2 separate regions of the Homo sapiens genome follow, and region 2 is linked to region 1. The links come from fine-mapping of genetic effects on gene expression. Tissue or cell type: whole blood. Region 1 holds a variant in brackets; the other region holds the start of a gene. All regions are shown on one strand. Distances are between the middles of the regions.

Region 1 (2,764 bases):
AACTGCCTCACCATAATAACCATTTTACTATCTATATGTATCCCATAACATCATGTTGTAAATCTAAAATATACACAATAAAATTATTTTTTTTTAAAAGAAGGTTATTAGGTACACTTAAGTTAGTCTGCAAAAGGATAAATTATTTCCTCTTGGGACTTCTGCAAACAAACACGGATTTTTACATAGTCTAGTTTAGAAATATATATTTTCTTTGGTTTGTTTTTCTGGAAGAAAAACAGATTTCACAGAAATGCTACATTTCTTATTTTTTTTAGATTCCTTGAGAGTAAGAAAAAAGAGCAGATCATATTCCTATGTGGTCTGGAAAGAATTTGATTTTCCAGAATTTTAAACAATTCTGCCAGATGAGGGCTTCAGGAGTATAATGATCCCCCTTGTAGCAATTTTAGGCCTACATCTATTACTCTTAAGTGATAACTGATAACTCTTAAAATCAGCTTACCTAGAGGATAACTGGTACTGATTGAGGGACTGTGGAGGCAAACAAGTTTCACTTATGAGAGGAACAGATATCATTATGTCATTCCATTATGATTGCCCTCCCCCATTTTAAATTAAAATATCCAAAGAAAAAGAGACAAGGATTATAAATAATTATGGTAGAAGGAGCCATCCATTACTTTCAGAAGTTCCTGGTCTGGATGGATTAACAGACTAGAAAAACATAAATGACTCTATGTATTGAATAACACAATTGTTGTACCAGTTTTATGTTATAGTCGTTAGAGTACAAGTGATGAACCCAGACAGTCCAGGTTCAAAATCTTGTTCTGCCATGCTGTAGCTATGTGGTTCTGGACAAGTGTTTAAGCTCTTTAAGCATCAATTTTCTCATCTGTTTAATGGGGAAAAGAGTACACATGTTAATTTTTTTTTTTTTGGTGAGGATTAAATGAGCTAACGCTCATGCAAAGTGCTTAGTACACAGTAAGTGCTCAGCTAATGTAAGTTATTTTGGCTAGATGTAAGCTCATGGATAACAGAGCCCTTAATTGATAAAGCGGCTGAGGGTAGAGCAGTGGTGTCAGTCAGGAGGCATAGGTCAAGGAGCACATCCTGTAGAAGAGAAGAGAAAATTTGACCTTGTTTTTGAAGTGCCAGTGAATATTCATTGATGAAGAAAGGAGAAGGAATATTTCAGG[C/G]AGTGGAGCTGGCATGCAGCTAAAAACAGAAATGCTTGTGAGGCTACATAAATCATGCTGATTGGAGTTTGGAAATAGATTTACTTGGCCAGAGGTAGATTTGTACAGGAAAGCAAGAAAGGATGGAGTTGATTACATAAATGGCCAGATGTATGTTAGCTTACATTTAAAAAATCTCTTTGGCAATAGGGAGCTTTTGTATCTTTAAACTAAAGAATGAGATTATAAAACAAATATTTGTCAAAGTTATTTCAGCAGCAGTTTCTGGTTTGGGTAGGGAGACAATGGCATCTATGAAGGGTGTTGATAATCCAGGTACTGCCGACATAGTTCCAGGAAATGTCCAGGGAATTGGAAAGCAAGAGTGTAATTCTGAGAGGTAGTTTGTATGCAGGAATGATACAGTTTGGTAATAGACTCAAGGTGAGAACTCAAATAGAGTAGTTGATAATAATACCTTAAGTTATTACCTTATCTGGGTACCTATTATATAAATAGAACCTCCCATTTCACCACACAACATTCATGCCAGAAATGGAGGAAGAGACACACTTTGTTTAACAACTTCATCAGGGATTCTACAATGATGATATCAAAGTTCCAGATTTTGGTTGCTCCAAAGGAACTTTGTTATTGAGGGACTGGAGGGAGACAAATTACTCTGCATGAGCAAATTACATATATGTGTATGTATTTATTAAAATATATATTTTGCTCCTGATTAAGTTGTTTTAGGAGGGGGGTGTGAGAAGGGCAGAGGAGACAGAGAATAGCCAAAAGCTTTTTTTTTTTTTTTTAATTATTATTTTTTTTTATTATACTCTAAGTTTTAGGGTACATGTGCACATTGTGCAAGTTAGTTACATATGTATACATGTGCCATGCTGGTGCGCTGCACCCACTAACGTGTCATCTAGCATTAGGTATATCTCCCAATGCTATCCCTCCCCCCTCCCCCCACCCCACCACAGTCCCCAGAGTGTGATATTCCCCTTCCTGTGTCCATGTGATGTCATTGTTCAATTCCCACCTATGAGTGAGAATATGCGGTGTTTGGTTTTTTGTTCTTGCGATAGTTTACTGAGAATGATGGTTTCCAATTTCATCCATGTCCCTACAAAGGACATGAACTCATCATTTTTTATGGCTGCATAGTATTCCATGGTGTATATGTGCCACATTTTCTTAATCCAGTCTGTCATTGTTGGACATTTGGGTTGGTTCCAAGTCTTTGCTATTGTGAATAGTGCCGCAATAAACATACGTGTGCATGTGTCTTTATAGCAGCATGATTTATAGTCCTTTGGGTATATACCCAGCAATGGGATGGCTGGGTCAAATGGTATTTCTAGTTCTAGATCCCTGAGGAATCGCCACACTGACTTCCACAATGGTTGAACTAGTTTACAGTCCCACCAAGAGTGTAAAAGTGTTCCTATTTCTCCACATCCTCTCCAGAACCTGTTGTGTCCTGACTTTTTAATGATTGCCATTCTAACTGGTGTGAGATGATATCTCATAGTGGTTTTGATTTGCATTTCTCTGATGGCCAGTGATGATGAGCATTTCTTCATGTGTTTTTTGGCTGCATAAATGTC
Region 2 (2,500 bases), 650 kb before region 1:
TGTGGTGGGCACCTGTAATCCCAGCTACTCTGGAGGCTGAGGCAGGAGAACTGCTTGAACCCAGGAGGCGGACGTTGCAGTGAGCCGAGATAGCACCATTGCACTCCAGCCTAGGCAACAAGAGTGAAATTCCATCTCAAAAAAAAAAAAAAAAAAAAGAAAAGAAAAGAAAAAAAGGTCTCAATCCAGGCAGCGAAGACCTTGGCCAAACTTTGGTAGAATCTCCAAGTTATCCTAGCCCAATTAACCTAAGACCACCAAGGATAAACCTGTACTTCTACAAAGTCAGGTTTATAGGCCCATTGCAATGAGGTAGACCACATACCAGAGAGAGTGCTTTGTATAAGTTCAGTTTTTAAGTTTATTTTAATCCTTGAAGTAAAATATTCAAAATGACTCAAGTTGGAAGCATGGCGTTACATCAAAACTTATCATTTTAAGATTAGTAAAGGAGAGGGGTACAGGTGCATTTTTTTATTTCTCCTGATCCAAATTACATAATCTCCCAATTTAATACTATAGTTTGCAGATTCTCATACTTTGATTTGGGCAGAACTGGTCCAAACCCACAAAAAGCTGAGGATGAGCAAGCCTCTTCCTGGACTCTCATAAGGGGAAGGGAAATGAAGGAATCGAATCACTACCTGGAGTACTGTGTACCTTGCCCTGCCAGGGACGCTGCATGCGGTGTATAAGGAAGTTGTGCTCCAGTATGCAAGCGAAGCAACCAGACTTTTTTCCCATGGACAGGAAACTAGAGTCTTCAGAGATGTCCTATATCAGCGAAAGCCCCACCCTGCACTTCTATAAAGGTTAATGAAACGAAAGATGCAATCCCAGCGAACCTAGCCCACTGACTCCCTCCCCACACCTCCACCTGCTGGTGCCTGACAAGCATGCTGGCCTCTCCTCCAGTAGGAACCAGCAGGCGGAGTAAGGAAGCCCGCTGCAGGCAGTAGTGGGGCGGGGCCTCAGAAGCAGTCAGCCCAGGGCTCTCGGATGCAGGGAGCCTGGGCCCAAACAGCAGCTTCCGGAGTCGGAAGGAGCTGAGGAAGAAGACTGACTGAAGGAGCTTGCGACTTTTCCGCCTCGGCAACCGGACCCAGCAGCAAGCAGGACGGGCGGCGCTCTGCTACTGGTCCCGTTAAGCCAGAGTAGCCCAAGCCCTGAAGTCACTGCTCATCCGGAATGGAAATCCCGCCGACCAACTACCCAGCCTCCAGGGCGGCCTTGGTGGCACAGAACTACATCAACTACCAGCAGGGGACCCCGCACAGGGTGTTTGAGGTGCAGAAGGTCAAACAAGCCAGCATGGAGGTGAGTTTAGCAGGGGGTGGTGGACAGCAGAGGCTTCAGGATTGCGCTCCCTCCACTCACCCGCGGTCTCAGCCTTTGGGTGCAGACACTCCGTGCCACCCCCTACCCACCTTCTGTTTTAGGACACACTGCTGGTATCTGGTCTTGAGATATTAAGGTTTCTGGGGGAATGTCTATACTCCAGTCTCTGGAGACAGCCCGGGACTGTTTTCACCTTAAGGCAGAGACAAAGTTTTTACGCACACAGTTACAAGAAAACGGGAACACGCTCTAGGTAAGGGGCAGCACTTTCCTTAAGTGTAAACTGTAGAAACCATTCAAAAGACTACTAAGGCTGCCACGTTTCTCATCTGCTACTCTGATCTGGACCAACAAAAGCTCCCATCTTCCAAGACTCTATTGCCTACATTTTAAGACAAATCCTTATCAGACCCTTTGACCAAAATGAAGGGGGAAACAAACAGCAAGAGAAACTGACAATCAAAGTCAAAGAATAAAAGCACTGTGGGCTGACGCTGGCCTTTAGCCACCCAAACACCGCTACCACATGACTGCCTTAAATGATGTGCACCCTCTGCTAAAGGCTTGAATTAAATGTTTAAGGCCTCAGCAATCACTAACGAGGTTTGTTTTCATTTTACGAAAATCTACTGGATTTGAGATTATCCCTTATTTATCTGACAGAATTTTAACTGCTAACAGTCTTTTAGAGGTGACACAGTAGATCTTATTTTGAAACTGTACCAGATAACAGAATTAGGTATAAATTTTCAATCTGTATCTTGATTTAAAAGTGAAATACCATTTCTTAGTCTTATATAATTTGTTAATCATTTTGCAGTTTCACTAATGTATAAGTAAAAACAATACTTAATTGTATTAAGTCTCCAATTGCTTTGCAGTAATCTGCCTCAAAATGAAATTCACATTCATTGAACATTATTTGGAGGGTACACTGAGCTTTATGAAAAAATCTTTTCAAAGGTGATATTGTCATCTTTAGAATTAAACGCTGTTTCAAACTTTCTTATGTAGAGACTTTAAGATCACAGATCCAGGGGTTAAATAAAGTCTTTTGATGATTGAAAGTGAATTGTGCCCAATTTGTATGCTTTTATCCTACTCTTTTGTTTTCATCCAAAATAAACTTGATAGGGGACTTGCTAAATTAGATGTTACATTC

What was found. PIP is the estimated chance that this variant, and not a neighbour inherited with it, causes the effect.
Region 2: LXN starts here. The variant in region 1 is fine-mapped to the expression of LXN in whole blood (TOPMed, PIP 0.99).

The regions. Positions count from the first base shown.
Region 1 is chr3:158,024,912-158,027,675 of GRCh38, reverse strand. No RefSeq gene overlaps it. Among named protein-coding and RNA genes, the nearest start is that of SHOX2, 80 kb to the left of the region's middle. The variant C/G (reference allele first, on the strand shown) is at 1,167.
Region 2 is chr3:158,671,167-158,673,666 of GRCh38, reverse strand. LXN (latexin) reads left to right here and starts at 1,019. Exons shown (of 6, transcript NM_020169.4): 1 at 1,019-1,317. The coding sequence starts at 1,189. The region is part of intron 13 of GFM1 (G elongation factor mitochondrial 1); the gene reads right to left. RefSeq lists enhancers at 646-835, 1,146-1,195, 617-1,209, 1,636-1,695, 1,210-1,802.